Homo sapiens: one gene and its partners. The protein of the gene in region 2 purifies or fractionates together with the protein of the main gene of each other region. This does not show direct contact. Each region holds a gene or a part of one and is shown on either strand. Other genes may lie near its edges.

Region 1 (3,695 bases), on a different chromosome or scaffold from region 2:
TCCCTTCCAGGGCTCTGATGAGCCCTCGCCTGCTGATGGTGGGCGAGACTCGATCCTGAGCCCAGCTATCTACACTTTGTATGTCCACAGCTGCCTCTACTGCCGTGTGGCCAAAGGGAACTGCCGTGTGTGTAGATGGCCTGGCAGAGCAGCCCAGTCCCCTCCCCGCACCCAGGTCCTTTGTGGTGTGGCTCTGCAGCTCACCCCAGGTGGCCTGCACTTCTCTGTGCTGGACTTGGGACCTGCTTTGGCTAACAGAACGTGGTAAAGTCCAGGACCTAGGCTGTGAGTGGCCCTGTGACCTCCACTCTCTCAAAGCCCTGGGGCTGCCATGAGGACGCACCCAGGCCAGCCTGCTGGAGGATGAGAGATTGATGGAGCAAAGACAAGCTGGCACAGCTGGGGCCACCCTAGATCATCCTGCTCCCAGCAGAGCCTGCAGCCAACTCACGCCCTTTTGAGAACTAATGAAGGGCTGGTGCTGGAGACATGAAGCTGGGCCTGGAAGGGCCAGTAGCTCTGCAGCAGCAGCTAATACTCCATTTGCACGTCCACACCCTACTTCTCCCCTTCATGGGGAAGCTGGGCATCAGGCTTGTCACCTCCCTCTCCCTCATCATCAAGTCCCATGGATTCTGTGCCAACTCAGTCTCTGAGGTGTATGTCTCCATTTGCAGCATTCCCAGTCCCTTTCCTGCCTCAATCTTCACGGTGCTACAGGGATCCCTGTTATATGAGGAATCCTTCTAGGATTTTATCTGAAATAAAAGTTCTCTTGCTCAAAGCCTAGTATACAAGTCCCACCACTAAACAGTTGCTACAAAGCTCCCCCGATCTTTTGAGGCCTGGCTTAAATGTCACCTCCTCCTGGAAGTCTTCCTAGATTTCTCCCTTGTTCAGACAGGATGAACCTCTTCCACAGTGCATACTCTCTCCTTCCCGTCTGGTCTCCCTAACTGTGGCCAAGAACCACAGTTTTGCTGTCCGTCCCACTCAAGGGTGAGCCCCTTGGGGGGCTGGGCAGTGCTGGGGTAGGAGAAAGAACATAGGACATGGAGCAAGAAAGCCAAGGCATTAAGTCCTGGGACTGTCCACGCCATGCTGTGTGCTGTGGGTGAGGCAGCCAATCTGTGAAGATGGCTGGAAACAACATGGTTCTGTAGCAGGGCTGGGAGTGGAGCGGGCGCTAAGTTAATCACTGTGGAAGGAGGAATGTGACTCGTGGCAGCTATTATGGGGAGTGCGGCCACATGCCTGGGCAAGTGGCAGGGTCCATGTTAAACTCTGGCTCACACTGCTCAGAGTGGGAGCGTGAAGCCAGTGAGAATCCTCCACGTCCCTGCTCCAGCAAGCCCCTTCCCCGCTGGGTCCCGGCAGCTCAGCCCCTGCCAAGCAACTGTCAGCACTCAGAGTCCTCTGTGTCCTCCCTGGGGCAGCTTGGCTGGGCTGACACTGGCTGGGGACCCACCAGGCAGGTGGGGTACAGGCTGTGGTCCCCTGTCCAGGCAAAGCCAGCAGGGCATCAGGTGAGGACGGGAGGCAGTAGCTGGGGCTGCTAGGAGAGCGACGGGAGCCTGGGGGGGCCTGGACTCTGTCCACTGGGAGGTGGGTTATGACTTCGCCTCTTTCCAGGCCAGAGTTGGGAGGGATTGAGGGTGACGGGGAGAGGTCACAGAGGCTGGACCCAAAATAGGACTGAGGCAGCACCGTGTGGGGAGAGGTCACAGAGGCTGGACCCAAAATAGGACTGAGGCAGCACCGTGTGGGTAGTGTTCATTATTTCACTCTCCTCCCAGCAGCTCTGCAGAGAAGGGGCTATTATCATCTCCATCATACAGGTAGGGAAACTGTGTGCAGAGGTATCAACCAACTTGCTCAAGACCACACATTAAAAACGCTACTAGGGGCCGGGCACAGTGGCTCACGCCTGTAATCCCAGCACTTTAGGCAGCTGAGGCGGGCGGATCACGAGGTCAAGAGATGGAGACCATCCTGTCCAAAGCAGTGAAACCCCATCTCTACAAAAAATACAAAAATTAGCTGAGCGTGGTGGTGCACGCCTGTAGTCCCAGCTACTTGAGAGGCTGAGGCAGGAGAATCGCTTGAACTCGGGAGGCGGAGGTTGCAGTGAGCCAAGATCGCACCACTGCACTCCAGCCTGGTGACAGAGTGAGACTCCGTCTCAAAAATAAATAAATAAATAAATAAATAAATAAATAAATAAAAATAAAAACACTACTAGGAGCCAGCATGGCTGCGCACATCTGTGGTCTCAGCTGCTCAGGAGGCTGAGGTGGGAGGATGATTGAGCCCAGGAGGTTAAGGCTGCAGTGAGCCACGACTGCACCCCTGCACTCTAGCTTGGGTGACAGAGCAAAACTCTGTCTCAAACAAGAACGAAAACCACCCCACCCCCCACCACTAGGGTTTGAATCCAGGCCAAAGTTGGCCCCATATCTCCCAAAATATTGTTGTCCCCAATGACTAATATTGTACCATAAGCAATTGCTTTCTCTGGATGAAATAAGGAATGTCTCTGAGCCTCAGTTTCCCCACCTGGTCGATAAAGGTAAGGGCTCTTGGGTGGCTCCAGCCCATGCACGGTCATTCTGTGTGCCCAGTGATGGTAGGGGCTCAACAAATGCTTGCGGAACAAATGAATACATGAGTGAGAGGAAGGACCGGGGAGAGGATGCGGGGAGCCTGGGCCTACCTCCATACCCCATTACCCTGCTTCAAAACTTCCACAATTGCTCCATGGGTCTCAGTCTGTTTTGAACCTCATCACCCCCAACTCAGTTGGTTTTTGCTGTTGTAGTAGTGCCTTTCCCCTTGTCTCTGCTGAGTGAACTCCTATTTATCCTTCAAAGGCCCAACCTCCAATACCCCTTTCTCTCTGAGGCCTGAGATCCTCCCTGCCCCTTGGCAATGATGGCTCCGCAGACAGCATTCCACATTGTAATTTATGCTTCTATCTTCCCTCACTGCTCTGGGCACTCCTCAAGCAGGTGCCTGGGGAATGCCTCATTTCCATGTCCCTGGCATTGCCCAGCAGAGGTCTAGGCAGACAGAAGGATAAAAGAATTGCTGGGGCAAGAGAGGAGGGAAACTGAAGAGTGAGATGGGGCCTGGGTTTGGGGAGCTGTGCCCAGGGAGGGTCCCCCTGGACTGCTTGGATGGGCTCCAATGCCCTCCTGTTCCTGGGCGGGCTCGTACCTGCATCGCTGGCACACGGGTAGTGGTAGGTGTGGAGGCATCCTTTGTGGCAGCACCCAATGGTGGCCCCGGCTTCTTGGCAGCTGGAACACATCTGATGAAGAGAAAGGAAAGGCAGGTGAGTCTCCAGTTGGAGCCCAGCCCTCAAGCTTTACAGGCTGGTAGGCCAGGTGCAGTGGCTCATGCCTGTAATCCCAGCACTCTGGGAGGCCAAGGTGGGAGGATCGCCTGAGTCCAGGAGTTTGATACCAGCCTGGGCAACATGGTGAAACTGTCTCTACAAAAAATAGTGAGGGTTGGTGGTGTGTGCCTGTAGTCCCAGCTACTCAGGAAGGTGAGGTGGGAGGATTGCTGCAGCCTGGGAGGTTGAGGCTGCAGTGAGCCGAGATGACGCCACTGCCTGTACTCCAGCCTGGGCAAGAGTGAGACCCTGCCTCAAAAAACAAACAAACAAACAAACAAAAAAAACACAAAAAACC
Region 2 (3,695 bases):
GGAGGCTGAGGCAGGCGGATTGCTTGAGCCCAGAAGTTCAAGGCTGCAGTGAGCTACAATTGCACCACTGCACTCCAGCCTGGGTGACAGAGTGAAATCCTATCTCTAAAAAATACAAACAAAAAAAGGAATGAAGAAGTGGAGGAAGCAGCCACAGGGCATAGGATGAGGACCACAGTGGGAAACAGACACACCCAGTCTCAGGTCAACACCACATGGCCCATTCTTAGAGCAGCTCAGATGTGCACGGTGCTGCCCCCCAAGGGGACAGCCCCCATCAGTAGGGAGATGGGAATAATTGCTGGGCTCCCATGGGACAAAGTGTCAGGAATGAACCCCCTAAGTAGAGTCAGTGGTGAGGGTCATTAGCTTCCTTTTGAGGATCTTCCCAAGCTTGAGATTCTGAACTGGAGTGGATGCCCTTCAGGATGAGATCGGAGGGCCTATTTGCACTGGGTTCCTGGAAGAGCCAAGTGCTGGAGGAGGGGAGGGCCCTGCCTGGCAGGAGGCTGGGAGAGAGACTCGGCCTCCCAGAGGCCTTCAAGGTACACAGAACTGGGGAGTAATGAGAAACCAGGCATGGGAGCTAGCTAGAGGGGAGGGAGAGGGACTCCCGAGTGGGAAGAGCAGATGCCTCACTACAGAGCTGAGGAGATAATACCTGGCGAACCGCAGATCCTAGCTCAGGAGGGATGTGCCACACTCAGAAGCCTCTAAGCTGAGCCTCAGGAATGATGACTAAGGCAGCCCAAAGACTCTGCAGGGCCCTTCAGTGAAAGCAAAATGCCAGGCAGGGTGTCTCTGCAACCCCAAAGGACAGAAGGAGGGAGCAACAGGATCCCTTTTACTGGAGAGGACACTGATGCCCAGAAAGGCACAGCCTTATCGAAGGCTGCACAGCTGCCAATGGCAGAATACCACAGTGGCAGAACACCCAGGTTGCTGGGTTTTTGAAGTCAATGCCAAGAGGAAGCTACTGAAGGGGGACAGAAGGGTCCTTAGCAGCTGCAATCACACCCAAGCTCATGGCCTTCCCCACGAGGCTTTCACAGACACACCCCTCAGCCATTATCCTAAATTCCCAGTCAGGAGAGAAACTAGCAGGCTTCAACCTCTTGTAAGGCCCTTGAGGTCACCTGGTGGCTGCCAAAAGTCAGGGCACCAGTCAAGGACTGATCCTGTGCCAGGCACTTCAGTACATGATCTTGATCCTCATACGACTCTTGAGGAAGATATTTACAGCTTCATTTTCACACAGGACTTGCAGAGGCCTGGGACAGCTGGCTGAGCTGCGCTGGGCTGGACTGCCTTCTGGCCGGCACAGGCTCGCAGCCCCCTTCCAGTCCCCATGGCCACGACATTACAGATGGATGCAGGTCAGGAATGGTCAGATCAGTGGGGTAAGGGAAGTCTCCCCAGGGTGTGGTGCTCTGGAAGAGGGGAATGGAGGGCAACCCTCTGTATCCTGCACCATTACCTCAAGTGTTATGCTCAGGTCTGAGCCTGTTGTCCTATTTCCCCTGATATCATGTATCAATTGGTGAAAACAAATTCTGTGTGGCTTTTTAAAGGCTACTGGAGGGCCATTGGGGAATGAGACAGAAATAAACAGCCACAGCTCCCAGCCAGCTGGGGACCTTAGCATCCCACAGGCCAACTGCTGGCCTGTATTCCCCGTGACACAAGGCCCAGCCAGTGATGTTACCGTTCTCTCCTCGAAAGCTCCTTTGGCCCGTCCAGATCCAGTTGTGTGACCTTTTTGGTTGTCTGTGCCACCCGGTTGGGGTTCTCGATGTCGATGAGCCCTTCAACGCCTTTGCGCTTTTGCTAGAACAGGGCAAGAAGCTGGTTGTTGGAGTTCAGGTCCTGTGGAGCCCCTGAGGGCCACTCCTGCCATCTCTCAACAGCCCATCTGGATGAGGACAAACTCCTGCTCCACCCCAGCCCACGTAGTGCTCAGCCCAAGTCTCACAGTGGGTATAGCTCTCTGGAGCATCTTCATCAGCCTGGGAAGAGCCCACAGAACGGCTGCTCGGGGTCGAATAACTTGCCCAAGTCAACCAGGAAGTAGGTGGTAGATGAGAGGTGCGCCCTACCCCGACTTGCAAGCACTCACACAGCACTACTCCCCTACTTCAAGCTCGGCTTCCAAAAGCAGTTTTCCATGGAATCCCATGCCTGATTCTTCTTGCAAAAAGCGCTGGGCTGGAATCCCCAGGGCAGGGTGGGCCAAGTGTGTGCTGTCATGACTAATTCCAATTCCCACCCACCTTAGCTGATGGACTGGACTTGTAACCCAAGAATAAGCTACTGGATCACACACTCTACAGGTTTGGGACGCTGGCCCAAAAACCTGGAATCTGCACCTTCCACCTCCCCTGCAGAAGTTCCAGAAGAAGGGGGTGTGTTCTCAATGCAGCAGGTTTGGTCAAAGTTTCAGGCCCTGTCAATTCCATCAATTCTCCTTAAGGGGGCAGGGAGACAGCTTCCACTCCACAGAGCTCCCTCCACACACTTCCAGTCCAGCTGCACACTTACACCTCCACTCAGATGCCTGGCACTGTAAACTTAACATGTCCAAGACAGAACTCGAGATTCATCCTTTACCCAACCGGACCCTCCCTGCAATCCTAAGCATATCCTTGATTCGTCGTTCCTTCAGCAACCCCCAAATACAGCTTAAATTTGTCCACTCTTCTCCACTGCCATTGTCACCATCCTAGGGCAAGCCACGATTTTTTTTCTTTTGAGACAGAGTTTCCCTCTTCTTGCCCAGGCTGGAGGGCAATGGCACAATCTCGGCTCACCACAACCTCGGTCTCCTGGGTTCAAGCAATTCTCCTGCCTCAGCCTGAGTATTTGGGATTACAGGCATGAACCACCACCCCCGACTAATTTTGTATTTTTAGTAGAGACAGGTTTTCTCCATGTTGGTCAGGCTGGTCTCGAAATCTCGACCTCAGGTGATCCGCCCGCCTTGGCCTCCCAAAGTGCTGGGATTACAGGTGTGAGCCACCACACCCGGCCCAGGATTTCTGATCTGAACACTGCTCTTACTCTCAACATCCTATCATTCACTCTCCATGAAGAAGCTAAAATAATCTTTTTTTTTTTTTTTTGAGACGGAGTCTCACTCTGTCGCCCAGGCTGGAGTGCAGTGGCATAGTCTTGGCTCACTGCACTCCGCCTCCCGGGTTCACGCCATTCTCCTGCCTCAGCCTCCCAAGTAGCTGGGACTACAGGCGCCTGCCACCACACCTGGCTAATTTTTGTATTTTTAGTAGAGACGGGGTTTCACTGTGTTAGCCAGGATGGTCTCGATCTCCTGACCTTGTGATCCACCCACCTTGGCTTCCCAAAGTAAAATAATCTTTTAAAAGCATATCTGGAGGCTGGGCGCAGTGGCTCACGCCTGTAATCCCAGCCCTTTGAGAGGCCAAGGCAGGCAGATCACGAGGTCAGGAGATTGAGACCATCCTGGCTGACATGGTGAAACGCTACCTCTACGGTAGTCCCAGCTATTCGGAAGGCTGAGGCAGAAGAATGGCCTGAACCCGGGAGGCGGAGCTTGCAGTGAGCCGAGATCGCACCACTGCACTCCAGCCTGGGCGACAGAGAGACTCCATCTCCCAAAAAAAAAAAAAAAAAAAAGCATATCTGGTCATGTCTCTCAATCCCTTCAAGGCCTCCCCCAG
Region 3 (3,500 bases), on a different chromosome or scaffold from region 2:
GCCGAGGGGGTTGGATCACGAGGTTAGGAGTTCGAGACCGGCCTGGCCAACATGGTGAAACCCCATCTCTACTAAAAATACAAAACTTAGTCAGGCGTCGTGGCATGCGCCTGTAATCCTAAATACAGGGAAGGCTGAGGCAGGAGAATTGCTTGAACTAGGGAGGCGGAGGCTGCAGTAAGCCAAGATCGTACCACTGTACTCCAGCCTGGGCGACAGAGCAAGACTCTGTCTAAAAAAAAAAGGGGGGTTCTGGATAATTTTATCTTCTATTATAATAACAACTAAATGTATAAGCAGCATAAACCTGTTTCAACCTCAGTGTGAGGATATTTCTTAAATACATTTGTGTATGCATAATGATCGTTGCTACTTTATAATCCAGAACTCTGCAATGTTTCTGAGCAATAACTCTATGAGAAGGACAGTAACAAAGAGCATTTAGTCATTTATCCTCTCGGGGTATCCATTCCCTCACCATGAAAATGAGGAATTAGATTCAGTGATTTCTACATATGTGGACAATGTATAGGAAATAGGACTAGATCTGTCTAGACTCAAAACAGACCCCAAAGACTTTCTACTTTGTATAACTTCCTGATGTTAAACTTACAAGCACGATTGATTTTATTTCTCTTCGTTCACTTTTCTTCCCCCATCATTTATCTTAGTCTCAAATATTCTTCACTACCTCTCACTCTCCCTCATTTTCCTGTTTACCCCTTTTTCTCTGCTAGCCTCCATTTGCACTTACCTTCTGTTGAACTGCAGCGCTCATAGATTGTTTTTCTGTTGTTTTTTGTTTGTTTGGTTTTTGAGACAGAGTCTCGCTCTGTCACCCAGGCTGGAGTGCAATGGCATGATCTCGGCTCACTGCAACCTCTGCCTCCTGGGTTCAAGTGATTCTCCTGCCTCAGCCTCCTGAGTAGCTGGGATTACAGGCACCTACACCGGGCTAATTTTTGTATTTTTAGTAGAGACAGGGTTTCACCATGTTGGTCAGGCTGGTGTCAAACTCCTGACCTCACGATCTGCCCGCCTTAGCTTCCCCAAAGTGCTGGGATTACAGGTGTGAGCCACTGTGTCCGGCTAGATTGTTTTCTTATAGCTGCCTGGAACTGATGAATTGTGTACAGTCATCCTTTAGTTACTAATCAATCTTTCTAAAAATGGACTGTGGTATGTACCTAGTTTTGCATACATGGGGGACTGGTTGTAGAACCCCTCACAGACACCAATATCTAAGGATGCTCAAGTCGCTTGATATAAAATGGCATAGTATTTGTATATAACCTATGCAGATCCTCCCATATACTTTAGATAATCTTTACATTATTTATAATACCTAATACAATGTAAATGCTATGTAAGTAGCTGTCATCCTGCATTCTTTTTATCTGTATCATTTTTTAATGTTGTTATTTGTCTTTTTTTTTCCCAAATAATTTCAATCCACAGTTGGTTGAATTCTTAGATGCAGAATCCATAGATATGGAAGGTCGACTATATTTTCTGATAGTCTTTCTCAAAACACACATACACACACTCCACGCATAGAGTTCATTAAGAAGTCCAGTTAATTCAGATTTGCTATTTTTTTATTTTTTTAATTATTTTTTTTTTAAGAGATGGGGTCTCACTCTGTCACCCATGCTGGAGTGCAGTGGCATGATCATAGTTGGCTGCAGCCTCCAACTCCTGGGCTCAAGTGATCCTCCTGCCTCAGCCTCCTGAGTAGCTAGGACTACAGGCACACACCACCATGCCTAGCTAGATTTGCTGTATTTCAAAAAACTAAATTTTTAAGGTTTTCTCTAAAATTAATGACTCCAACTTCTTTTATCTTCAATTATTTTACACTATTTTAGGGATTTAAGTTGCTTTTTTCTTTTTTAAGAGACAGGGTCTGGCTGCCACCCAGGCTGGAGTGCAGTGGTGCTATCATAGCTCACAGTAACCACACACACCTGGGCTCAGACAATCCTCTCACCTCAGTCTCCTGAGCAGCTGGGACTACAGGTACATGCATCTATGCCTGGCTAAATTTTAAATTTTTTGTAGAGATGGGGCTTCACTATGTTGCCCAGGCTAGTCTTGAACTTCTGGTCTCAAGTGATCCTCCCACCTTGGCCTCCCAAAGTGCTGGGATTACAGGTGTGAGCCACTGCACCCAGCCTAAGTTGCTATTTTCTAAATACATTTTATTATCTTCACTTAAAAAAAGCATATACCATACTGAATACTTACAAAATAATGAACAAGGCTAAATAATCCAAATGCTCAACTAAAGGGGTCTGGTTATGTAAATTATGATGCGATAGCACCATAACTATTATTCCATTTGGTATTGCTAGATGGAGGTCTGTGTATTCACCATATGTACAGTCTACTAGAAACTGTAAATATAAAGATTTAGAATAAGCCAGTCCTCATACAGTATTCCTCAAATAGTATAATTCCTCATGTAGTATGATTTCAAATTTCTTCATTTTTTGGTGCTCGGAATCAAACAAAACTCCAGATAAAGCCTCATCAGCCCGAAAATGAGCAGGGCTACCAACTTGCTCATTTTGGAGACAAACTGCAGAACCCATGACACTAGCTATACTGGCACCCACATTATACTGTTGATTCACACTGAGTTTCCCATCAACGAACACTGTCCTTGTATCACTTCTCCCTCATTCCACACTTTATCACTGATTTTTCTGCAGCTGAGTATAGGATTGTGCCTCTTCTTTGTAAAAGATGATTCACCATTCCAGTCAGTCAGGATTTATCTGGACTCTGATTAAATCAATCAGTTAATTCCACAAATTCCTCCCAGGCTTGGGTCACTCACAAATTTTATCACCATGCCATCAGCACCCTGACGTTAAGGTACTGAAAGGAACAAAGTTAGGGATAGAGATACATGGCATATAAGTACAGACCTCTCTTCAGTCTGCCTGATTCTTTCAGTAGTAAGTCAGGTTTTTATTTCACCTAACTGGATTGCCATCAGTCCATCTCCATCTTGCTCACTAAGAGAGGCAGTAAAGCACATTTGCTAGCTAGAGAAGCAGACTTTGAAGCTAGGTCATCTGGATTCAAATTTCAGCTCTCCCATTTACTAGCTCTGTGGGCAAGTTCCTTAATCTCTTTATGCCCATGCTTCCACATCTGTAAAATGGGAATAGTACCTAATAATTGGTTAGGAGCATTAAGCTAGTTGGCCTATGTAAAACATCCAAAACAGTACCTGGTATATAATAAATTTGCTATAATAATGACTACTGTAGGTACCTCCTGCCAGCATCCTTCTGATGCTGCCTGTCTAGTATAGGTCTTGCTTTCTTTCTGAACTGATACTGTAGTGTAGTGGTCACTAGTTATGCCACCATGCCCAGCTAATTTTGTATTTTTAGTAGAGACGGGGTTTCACCATATTGGCCAGGCTGGTCTTGAACTCCTGACTTCAGGTGATCCACTTGCCTTGGCCTCCCAAAGTGCTGGGATTA
Region 4 (3,695 bases), on a different chromosome or scaffold from region 2:
TGAGTGGCCACAGGGACATTGGCCCCTCTTGCCCCAAGTCCCCAAACCCAGCCCATGTGTAACCACCTCAGACCCTGAATCCATTCACCCTCCCCAGGCCACCTTCGGGGATGGCATATCTGTCCCCTCCTGAGATCAATCCGGGCCTGGGGTCAGGAGAGGCCGCAGGGGCAGTCCTGAGGTCGGTGTCCCGCATGCACCTGGGTGCAGGTGCACGGCACAGAGGGCACAGAGCCCAGGAGGGAGAGAACAGGTGCAGGGTGCGGGGTTACCTGAGGTCGAGGCACGGGGAGCTGGAGCCCGTCTGCACCAGCAGCAGCCTCTCTTCCTGGAGCGCAGAGCTGCCAGATACAAGGTGGTCAGTGCCCCCAGGAGCTCCCAGTTCAGTGACAATCCCCATGGCCCACTCTGCCCAGCTGGTGCCCCTCCCCATCAAGGCCCCCCCAGCACTGCCCGCCAACACTCACTGCACGACAGGGTCCATGCCCGCAATACGCTCTGCCACGATGAGGGACTCGCTGTGGGTCACGTCGTTCAGGGCGGGGCCTGAGTTGCACGCCAGGATGACCTGCAGGAGGAGGGCCCAGGCTCTTTAGGAACCTGTGCTGGCCCAGCATGGAGCCTGCGTGCACCCCGGCCTTCGAGTGGCTGGGCTGGGTGAGGGTGCTGTGCCCAGCGGGCCTGGCCAGCCACCTGCTGCTGAGGAGCAGGGACCTCGCCTGACCTTGCCACTCTGTGGCCCCTGGGAGGGAGCTGAGCCGAGGGGCAGAGCTGAGTTTAGAGCCTGCCCCTGGGACCTGCCTGTCTGTGAAGTCACAGCCCCAAAGCCTCCTTGCTGTGAGCACCCTTCCAGGAGCCTGGCGTCAACCCTGGGCTTCAGCACATGGACCCTCAGCCTGAGCCCAGGGGGCTCGGAGCCTCCACCCCAGCAGATGACGGCTCTGGGCCGCCTCCCCCGTGCTGCTGCCTGCACCTACCTGCTGCGTCCGGAGGAGCCCCGACCACCGCCAGAGGCCCACAGCGGCGCCAACCCCACCGAGAGCAGAGAAGCCCAGGGGAAGGGCCCCACCCACCACCTCAACACTCACCTCTGTCCCTCTAAGGAGTAGCTCCCTGACAAAGGGGAAGACTCCCAAAATGATGTCTATTCCACTGTTATCTGCGAAAATTAAGGCACATTTATGAGGGGGCCCCTGTAAGACAAAACCAGGACGTTCAGTTGGGAACAGGCGCATCCAAGCGAGTCAGTCCGCACCCCTGCTGCCCGTCACGCTGCCCTGCAGGGGCCGAGACTGGGGGCTTCAGGGCCCCAGAGATGCCAGGGATGGGCTGTCCTGCAGGGGCCGAGACCAGGGGCTTCAGGGCCCCAGAGGTGCCGGGACTGGGCTGGGCTGCAGGGGCTGAGACCGGGACTTCAGGACCCCAGAGGCACCGGGACGGGCCAGCCTGCAGGGGCTGAGACTGGGGCTTCAGGACCCCAGAGGCGCCAGGGACGGATTGGCCTGCAGGGGCCAGTGCCTGTCTCTTCTGGCAAGGCTTTGTGCCTAGAGCAGGTGACCTAAGAAGCAGTCACGACAGGAGGGCAAGTGTGGGGCAGGGGATGCTGAGACCCTTGGCTCGCAGGATGGTGAGACTCTAACAGGAGGGGAGGGCCACCCGAGGCAGCCCATGCCCACCTCCCTCCAGTGACCACCCCCCCGGGCCCCGCTGTGTCCCCAGCAGCAGAGGTGGGAGGCCCCTCCACATACCTTTAATCTCTGAAGCCACTCGCTGTAGGAATCCACGAGCCAGGGTCTTTCTGAGACAGAGAGAGGGACACATGATTAGCCCGGTGCTCCAGGTCAGGGGTCAGGGAGACGCGTCTTCAGGTGTTCGTCTCTCCAGGAAGCAAGTTCTCCCCGCCCCCGAAGCCCAGCTGACAGAGCCTTGAGCAGGGGAGGTGCCTGGACCCCGACCGCAACTGCATTCGCTGTTGCAGAGAACGTCCAGGCATGGCCCCAGCACAAGGCAAGGCCCCAAGTTACTTGGCCATCCGTACCTTGTAACTTCCTCTTTGCTTCTTCAAACCCAAAGTAGGGGTCGGATTCAAGGACACTGCATGGAGGAGGAGAAAAGAAAATTAAGACAACAGAACAAAAACCTTCAGCCACAGTGCTCAATGTGAAGACCCCAAATCCCTCCCAGGCGGGACAGAGGCAGCTGCTCAATGTAAAGATCCCAAATCCCTCCCAGGTGGGACAGGGGCAGCTGCTCAACGTGAAGACCCCAAATCACTCCCAGGCAGGACAGAGGCAGCTGCTAAGACCCCAAATCCCTCCCAGGTGGGACAGAGGCAGCTGCTCAACGTGAAGACCCCAAATCACTCCCAGGCAGAACAGATACAGCGTTCTTAACATGCTGCGATCCGCAGAAGGCTCAGGGGGCCACCAAGCAAAGGTCTGAGAGAGCACAGGCTGTTTCTCAAGGTGGACTCGGAGCCACGGGGCCAGGGAAGCCTCTCGGTGACTGGCAGCCGCAGTATGGTCCCTGTGCTTGGCACCCATGCAGGCGGTGTGGGGAGCCCCCAGCCACAAGGCCAATCCCATGGGTCAGGACCCTCCTCCAATGCTCCTGACAGGCTGCGGGAGGGGCCTGTGTCCCAGAGGGGCAGCCATGGTTGGAGGCGGCGTTCTCATCTATGTCTCGAGACACGAGTGGGACCCAGGGAGGGCTGAGAACCCAGGCATTTCCCTCCAGCCCCACATGAAAAAAAGCAGGGACCACGAGAGGTGGTGCGGCCGCCTGGGGAGGCCCAGAGACTGGAAGCAGCTTCTTTGGGAGTGAAGGTAAATGATGGTGGGGGGGTTCATTTTCAAGATTCAGAGCCCCAGGAGACGGCGCCAGGTGCTAGACACCTGCGTGTCCTACAGGCCAGTCTAGGGGACTGCTTTGCAAAGCACCCTTTGATCATCACATCAGAAATGTTTAATTCCTACCACACATAGGAAACATGAATTTGGATTCTGACAATAGAAAATGCCAGCCCCGATTTTCAAATCCACACCCTTAGGCCTCTGCGGCACCCATGCTTAAGGAAGGGGCCTCCTCAGAACCTGAGGGGACAGACAAGGGCGCTGCGCCCTGCCCAGCCCCTGGCGCTGCTGCCATGTGCACTCCCTGGGCCCCAAAGCCCTGAGCCACCAAGCCACCAAGCGCCACGTGACCCCCAAGGGACCCGCTCCACCTCCTTGCCCGCAAGCCTGGGGCAGGACAGGCACCCACAGGCTGCAGAGCCTGCTCCGAGCCCGCAGACACCTACGCAGACACGGCTTTGGCCCCCCAGTCGAAGACATTCCCCGCCAGGAGGCCTTTCACCAGCGCCAGCTGCCGTTCCTCCCAGCCCAGCGCGTCCAGGGAGCGCACGACCCCGGGGAAGCACCTCAGCGCCACGCCATTCTCCCGCTGCTTCACCTGTGGAGAGTGCCAGATGCCAGGCCTGAGTGAAGACGTGGCCTCAGCCCACCCTGGACACCTGCCAGGCGCAGCCTGTTCCATACCACGCCCCTCAGGATCGAAGACTCAGGCCCAACTGGGACCCCACCAGGCACAAGCCTATCGGTCCGGGACAGTGGCCAGCGCACAGCTGCACGGGGCTCTGAGGACGAGGCCCAGGACAACTTCAGCCCCCATGTGACTGAGCAGTGGGTGAAGGGCAG
Region 5 (3,507 bases), on a different chromosome or scaffold from region 2:
TTAAATTTTTTCTCATTTTTAGAAACAGGGTCTTGCTCTGTTTCCCAGGCTGGCATGCAACAGTAGATCAGAGATCACTGCGGCCTGAAACTCCTAGGCTCAGCCGGGCGTGGTGGCTCATGCCTGGAATCCCAGTACTTTGGGAGGCCGAGGTGGGCAGGTCACCTGAGGTCAGGAGTTCGAGACCAGCCTGACCAACATGGTGAAACCCCGTCTCTAGTAAAAATACAAAATTAGCTGGTTGTGGTGGCGGGCGCCTGTCATCCTAGCTACTCAGGAGGCTGACGCAGGAGAATCACTTGCACTCCGGAGGCGGAGGTTGCAGTGAGCCACTGCACTCCAGCCTGGGCAACACGAACAAAACGCCATCTCAAAAACAAAACAAAACAAAACAAAACAAAACAAAACAAAACAAAACAAAACAAAACAAAACTAGTCTCAAGCAATCCCTCCACTTCAGCTTCCTTGGCAGCTGGGACTACAGGTGTGTGCCACCATATCCAGCTATTTTTTACTTTTATTTTTTGTAGAAATGGGGTCTCACTACATTGCCCAGGCTGGTCTTCAGCTCCTGAGTTCAAACGATCCTCCTGCCTCAGCCTCCCAATGTGCTGGGATTACAGGTATAAGCCACCGTGCTAGGCCTCAGCTTCTAATTATGCAGGAATGGTCAGTGCTTCTACAGACATTGACTGGAGGCCCCTCTTGGGTGTGAGCTGAAGGAAGGAAATTAAAAAGTACTACAGTGGCGGTGATCAAGTCATAGTACAGGCTTAGCGGCCTGAGAGACGCATATGAGGGCATGAGGCGGCTATCTGCCACCCGGGGACCCTGGCTGTCTCCACGCTGGTGAGGGTGCTGGCCCTACCATGCTTAGACGGAGATACACACAACCCCAGACTGCAGTGTCAAAAGGGAAAGAGCCCAGGGGGCAGGACTGGGGAAAGCCCCAGTGAACGGCTGCCGAGGGGAGACACCAGCTCCAGTGAGCTGGGGCAGGGGGCAAGAGCAGTGTTGTTTCCAAAACTGGGTTTCTGCTCTAAGTGGGCTGGAGTGATGCTGTACCCGGGTACAATCAGCTGCAATCTGCTTCTGGTGTTTTAGCACAGCTGCATAGACAACTTTCCAAAAACACAGGCACACGAGTTCCCTTTTTTTTTTTTTTTTTTTGGATACAGAGCCTCCCTCTGTTGCCCAGGCTGGAGTGCAGTGGCTCGATCTCGGCTCACTGCAACCTCCGCCTCCCAGGTTCAGGCGATTCTCCTGCCTCAGCCTCCTGAGTAGCTGGGACTACCGGCATGTACCACCATGCCCAGCTAATTTTGTCTTTTTAGTAGAGACAGGGTTTTGCCATTTTGGCCAGGCTGGTCTTAAACTCCTGACCTCAGGTGCCACCACTCCCGGCATATATACATATATCAGTAGAGACGGGGTTTCACCATGTTGGCCTCGAACTCCTGACTTCAAGTGATCCATCCACCTCAGCCTCCCAAAGTTCTAGGATTCCAGGCGTGAGCCACTGCGCCTGGCCTATTTCCCAATTATAAAGGGACATTGGTAACAGAGTTTCCGCATTTCAGGTAACTTAGAAGCTCCAATCCACAGCATTCTCTGATGATATGAGTCTTGTTCATTTCTTTATTTCCTATTTCAGTGCCTTAATCAGATGCAAGGCCAAGTAGAGGGAGAAACTCAGGTTGTCGGGGGCTTACACCTGGGAGGAGGCGGCAGGTACCAGGTATTAGACGTGGAAAAAGAATTTAGCATCAAAAAGGAACAACACTTTTTTTTTTTGAGACAGGGTCTCGCTCTGTCACTTAGGTTGGAGTACAGTGGTGCGATCATAGCTCACTGCAACCTCTACCTCCTGGGCTCAAGTGAGCCTCCCACCTCGGCCTCCTGAGGAGCTGGGACTACAGGTGTATGCCACCAGGCTCGGCTAATTTTTGTATCTTTTGTAGAGATGAGGTTTAGCCGTGTTGTCCAAGCTGGTCTCAAACTCCGAGCTTACGAGATCCTCCCGCCTCGGCCTCCCAGGGTGCTGGGATTACAGGCGTGAGCCACTGTGCCTGGCTGAGCAACACATCTTAGGGCAGACAGGTGAACAGACACTGTGGCCACACAGTGGGAAGACACCAACATGCTGAGAAAGCAAAACCTACCACTACCAACTACATGCAGCAACACGGGTGAGGCTCAGAGGCACAATGTTGCACAAAAGAAACCACACACAAGAGTACCCGACCTCGGATCCCGTTTAGACAAAGTTCAAAAGCAGATCAAACCACAGCGGTGGGGTTGGGACAGCGACTATCTTGAGTGTAACAACTGGGAGGGTTTGGTAGTATTCTGTTTTTTACCCATCTGGGTGCTGGCAACATAGGTGTGTTTAATGTCTAGAAATTAATGGGTACACTTTTTAAAAATAAAAAGTTAGAAACAGGCCAGTCATGGTGGCTCGCGCCTGTAATCCCAGCACTTTGGGAGGCCAAGGCTGGCGGGTCACGAGGTCAAGAGATCAAGACCATCCTGGCCAACATGGTGAAACCCCGTCTCTACTAAAAATACAAAAATTAGCTGGGCATGGTGGCATGCACCTGTATTCCCAGCTCCTCAGGAGGCTGAGGTGGGAGGCTCACTTGAGCCCAGGAGGTAGAGGCTGCAGTGAGCTATGATCGCACCACTGTACTCCAACCTAAGTGACAGAGCAAGACCCTGTCTCGAAAAAAAAAAAAAGTTAGAAACATCATCCAGTGATACAGAAGCCTAGTCCTAAGAGATTCAGTTCAGACAGAAACAAACTCAGGGTCCTGGCATTAATGGACAAAGACTTCCAGTGCTGTCAAACTTAGAAAGCAGCAGTGTCTCCCAAGCTAAGCTCCCAAACAAAGCCCTTGTGAGCGAGCGGCGAGACCTCTCTGGGTTTTCACAATCGATAAAGCTGGGCTTGGCAGGAACCTTCTTGGGGAACTCACGTGAGAACAGGAGGTCATATCTCAAGAGAGCCAACCTCTCTTGAAAATGACAGCCAGTTTTTCTTTTAGAATCTGTAGAATCTCTTTCCCCCTTTTTCTCAACTCTATAGGCTGCTGCCAGCTCCCTTCATCTAAAGAAGTGTTTCTGTATCTTTTTTCATTATTGCCCCACAAGAAGGCTTTTAAGATTTTTTTCCCTAATAGCCTCCCCAGCAAAATCTTAACATCACAGATGCACTGTATGTCTGCTCATGTACTGTATGTATAATTGTGTCTTATGCATAAAAGGAGTAAAATTCCTTCCACCCTCCCGAGAACCAATTTTCTCCCACTTCAGGGCAATATCATACTCATTGAGAATCCATGATCTGAGGTAACCATAAGATTTAATCTCCAAAAGGGATACCTCTAAAGAACAGAGGGCATTACGAATATTTATAACGGGGAAACAGGTTACCAGGAACCTCATACCAATGGCTCCCCCACTCTTTACCAACAGCAGCTGTGGGGACAGGAGTTTGTGGAAAGTATA
Region 6 (3,695 bases), on a different chromosome or scaffold from region 2:
ACATTGTCGCAGCTGGGGAACTTTTCACATGATTTTGCCTCACTTCATGGAGATTTTATTCAAGACAACTAGATGGCAGATAGGGAGGCAGTTTTGAGTAATGGCTAACATGTTTGGACCCTTTTCAGGCCCCAAACTAAAGAGTAACTGAGTAGTGGCTCTAGGACTTCTTCCCCTCCCTACAAGTTCACAGTTGCTGTATGTTTCTGGTGCTTACCCCTTCTGTTCATCTCAACACTTATTGAGGGCCCCTGCTACATATTGGAGCCATAGAAATATAAGAGAAGGTGGTCCTGTGCAAGGAGGTATGGAGACGTGTCAGATGAGGTGAACGTGAGGCAAGACCAGCATGGTGCACATGAGTTGACATCAAGTGGAGAGAGAGTCAGATAAGGCTCTTTCACCTCTCTTTAGCATGGAGACTGTCACTTTCATCTTGGAAGGTATTGTTCTGCCTGCTGTAGTTTATGAGACATGGATAGTCCTTGAGGCCACACTGAAGCTTCAAAGCTGAGCTCTGTTGGGTAATTGGAAGGTGCTCTTTGCTCCTCTATGCTCAGAAAGTACATTAAAAAAACACAAGATACCTCTTATTGCCCGGTTTACTTGAAAATGTTGCCTTCAGTATACTTAATACGGTTAACCATGCTGGGAAAGGTATTGCAGGATTTGGATTCTGGTTCCCAGGGACTTATGGGTGCACTGTCAAGAATGCACCCTTGATAACCATAGCAGGCACTATGGTTCCTATGGAGAATCTGACACACACTCCTCCTGTACTAATTCACAGGGCTATGTGCTGAGTTGTACAAGCTTTTACTCTGTGCAGTGAGTGTATCCCACCCAATCACTTAACCTGCACAGCCTTTCATTCTCAGCACATTCTCCTAGCTGGCCTTAAGTCCAGCTCTGATCTTTCTTCGAGACTCCAGGGTTAAAAGTATTCATGGAGGCTCTGGCCCTTCGTTTCCTTCTGTAGTTTAAAGAAAGATGAGTTTAGCTTCTCTGGCTATTTTCAGCAAGAAAGTTCTTAGATGTGGAGATGGCAAGAAATATTTCTTCCAGTTTGGCCTGACTGGCTGACCTAGACTGACCTTAGCCCCACTTCAAGAATTCCATGATTCCTCATAATTATGGCATGGATTCCTACTGACCATTTTTGCTGTCCCCCTTAGGAAGAATTATTTGAAACATTTAAGCTATTGTAATGAGGCAAAGTCTGCATAAGGCAGTGAGAATTAGGGAAAGGCTTGGATTCATTTATTCAGCAAATACTGAGTTTGTACTATATGTTGGCCAGTACCCTACTGTACTGGAGATGGAGCAGTGAATAAAACAGACAAAAAGTATGGAGTATTTATTTCTAGGGCACTTTTTTTAAAAAGGCAGTTATGCTTTTAGAATGTGAAATCCCTTGGGGAGCCACCGTAGGTTGGATGGTAAGTAGAATATCAATTTTGTGTGTTATTGCTGAAATGCCTAGGACAGTTCTGTTAATTTAGATTTTCTTTTCAGGGTCATTTGCTGTTAACTTGTAATATCCTTGAAGAAAAAAAGATTTCCCCAAAATATCAATTTCTACACAGTTTCTCTGTAAATTTTCTAAACTTTGAAATTAAAAGAAAAAGTAATGCACTTTTAATTCTGGTTAAATCCTTTGAACATATACTACTAGATAAATGTGTTTGTTTTGTTATAGGTAAAAAGAAGCCTTTCTTGTTAACTGCCAAGATTTGTAGTCATTTTCATTTCTAACATAGCAGCAAGATGGGGAACTCCTGCTATTTTGGTTTCTACACAATTGCATAAGTCTCTTCTTGTATTAACTTAAAAGCTTTAGTTCCATTTTTAAGGAGCTGGAGTCAGACTGAAGACTAGCTCTTAAATAGCACCTCAATGTTCTTGCTGTTGATTTTGTCATAAAAGTAGAGGTTTTAATTTGGGATAAAGCCTAAGTTGATCTTCATTTCCCTTACTTATTCACCACACCCTTAGTTGGGAGAAGCCGTTTATTTGAACAGTATACCTACCCCTTTTTAGAAACACTTCCTCTTGAGTGTCATCGTGCCCAGGGGACTTGGGATATGTTTCACTGTGCTTACCTGGAGAAGGTGATGGGAATCATACATTATAGTCATTCAACAAAGTAAGGTATATTAAGAATAGATTTTTAAAAATCAACTTCGTTTTATATAATCACCAAAAAATATGTATATTTTCCCATTCCCTTTGTAGCCCACAAGACGGTCTGCCAGATTGTCAGCGGTAAGTACCTTAGAACCACTTCAGTGTTAGTTCTTATGAGTACATGTTCCCTTTGTCCAAAGTGAAGCAGCAAAAGGAAGATTAACATGGTTTCCCATGAGCTTATTTTCTTTTTGAAAATTACCTAGGGTCCTCATGTCTAGCAAATTTGACCAGTGTTGCCAAGCAATTCACTTGATCAAATGTGTCAGAAAAACAGTGGCCAGCCCCATAACGAAGAATATAAAGCAGGATGTTGTTTGACATTGCTAGATCTCTGAAACAAAAGTAGTATATTAGGCAAAGTTCCAGTCTTCAGATTGTACCTATGATGTGCTGAAGTGGACAGAATTCTGATTCTCTGTCCACAACTCATACTTTAGAATGTATGTATGAGAATGTTCTGAAAGTTGTCTGAGTCCATATACTGTAGCCTCATTTCAGACCTAAAGAATCTTTGTAATAGTAATAATTCTACTTTGCTATTTGGTGTCTCCTTCTGTGGGCCAGGAGATTCTTGTGGGGTTAGGATACAAGCTGAGATGGGCAGATGTGGCTGAGCCTCTGAGGTGGACATCCTTCAGCTCTTCCTCACCAACCTGTGCTCCTTACTGGTTCTTATGCTCTTCTCTTTTGCTGCTCTCCTGAGAGATTAGCTGGACTCTAGTGGAGGATTTTGGTTAAAATTCCTGCAGCCCAGACTTCCCACTGAGAAGGTAGAGGGAAAGGCATTGGCATTTTGGCTGACACTATATTAGTATATCCCCATACTAGCTATTACAGAAGCTTCATGCTACTTTGGTCTTCAGGAAAGCATGGATTTCATTCTCAACCCAAATCTGTGCCTGATACAATATAAGGAATCAAAGCAAAAATGGGTATTAGGACCACTCACAAGTTCAGAAATACAGCTGTTTGGATCAGGCAAGCCAGTGTTTCACGTGAGTCTCGTAAGGAAGTATATTAGTCTGTTTTCACACTCACTGCTGATAAAGACATACTCAAGACTGGGCATTTTACAAAAGAAGGAGGTTTAATTGGACTTATAGTTCCATGTGGCTGGGGAAGCCTCACAATCATGGTGGAAGACGAGGAGCAAGTCACATCTTATGTGGATGGCAGCAGGCAGAGAGAGAGCTTCTGCAGGGAAACTCCCATTTTTAAAACCATCAGATCTCACCAGACTCATTCACTTTCACAAGAACAGCACAGGAAAGACCCGCCCCATAATTCAATCACATCCCACCAGGTTCCTCCCATGACACATGGGAACTGTGGGAGTTATAATTCAAGATGACATTTGGGTGGGGACATAGCCAAACCATATCATTCTGCCCCCAGCCCCGCCCAAATCTCATGTCCTCACATTTCAAAACCAATCATGCCTTCCCAACAGTCCCCCAAATCTTAATTCATTTCAGCATTAACTCAAAAGTCCAAAGTCTCATCTG

What was found.
Region 1: the proteins of PDAP1 (region 2) and RAI1 purify together in Homo sapiens (affinity purification with mass spectrometry; one large-scale study listed by BioGRID and IntAct). This does not show direct contact.
Region 3: the proteins of PDAP1 (region 2) and TDG fractionate together in Homo sapiens (co-fractionation; one large-scale study listed by BioGRID). This does not show direct contact.
Region 4: the proteins of PDAP1 (region 2) and PANK4 fractionate together in Homo sapiens (co-fractionation; one large-scale study listed by BioGRID). This does not show direct contact.
Region 5: the proteins of PDAP1 (region 2) and KLHL36 purify together in Homo sapiens (affinity purification with mass spectrometry; one large-scale study listed by BioGRID and IntAct). This does not show direct contact.
Region 6: the proteins of PDAP1 (region 2) and HMGN3 fractionate together in Homo sapiens (co-fractionation; one large-scale study listed by BioGRID). This does not show direct contact.

The regions. Positions count from the first base shown.
Region 1 is NC_000017.11:17,803,371-17,807,065, reverse strand, and holds part of RAI1 (retinoic acid-induced protein 1), read right to left. Parts: intron 3,311-3,695; coding exon 3,217-3,310; intron 1-3,216. UniProt on the Homo sapiens protein: Transcriptional regulator of the circadian clock components: CLOCK, BMAL1, BMAL2, PER1/3, CRY1/2, NR1D1/2 and RORA/C. Positively regulates the transcriptional activity of CLOCK a core component of the circadian clock.
Region 2 is NC_000007.14:99,398,598-99,402,292, forward strand, and holds part of PDAP1 (28 kDa heat- and acid-stable phosphoprotein), read right to left. Parts: intron 1,828-3,695; coding exon 1,706-1,827; intron 1-1,705. UniProt on the Homo sapiens protein: Enhances PDGFA-stimulated cell growth in fibroblasts, but inhibits the mitogenic effect of PDGFB.
Region 3 is NC_000012.12:103,968,872-103,972,371, reverse strand, and holds part of TDG (G/T mismatch-specific thymine DNA glycosylase), read right to left. Parts: intron 13-3,500; exon of another isoform or gene 1-12. UniProt on the Homo sapiens protein: DNA glycosylase that plays a key role in active DNA demethylation: specifically recognizes and binds 5-formylcytosine (5fC) and 5-carboxylcytosine (5caC) in the context of CpG sites and mediates their excision through base-excision repair (BER) to install an unmethylated cytosine.
Region 4 is NC_000001.11:2,509,590-2,513,284, forward strand, and holds part of PANK4 (4'-phosphopantetheine phosphatase), read right to left. Parts: intron 3,451-3,695; coding exon 3,299-3,450; intron 2,095-3,298; coding exon 2,039-2,094; intron 1,799-2,038; coding exon 1,749-1,798; intron 1,194-1,748; coding exon 1,089-1,193; intron 569-1,088; coding exon 468-568; intron 342-467; coding exon 273-341; intron 1-272. UniProt on the Homo sapiens protein: Phosphatase which shows a preference for 4'-phosphopantetheine and its oxidatively damaged forms (sulfonate or S-sulfonate), providing strong indirect evidence that the phosphatase activity pre-empts damage in the coenzyme A (CoA) pathway.
Region 5 is NC_000016.10:84,651,504-84,655,010, reverse strand, and holds part of KLHL36 (kelch-like protein 36), read right to left. Parts: intron 1-3,507.
Region 6 is NC_000006.12:79,207,117-79,210,811, reverse strand, and holds part of HMGN3 (high mobility group nucleosome-binding domain-containing protein 3), read left to right. Parts: intron 1-2,235; coding exon 2,236-2,265; intron 2,266-3,695. UniProt on the Homo sapiens protein: Binds to nucleosomes, regulating chromatin structure and consequently, chromatin-dependent processes such as transcription, DNA replication and DNA repair.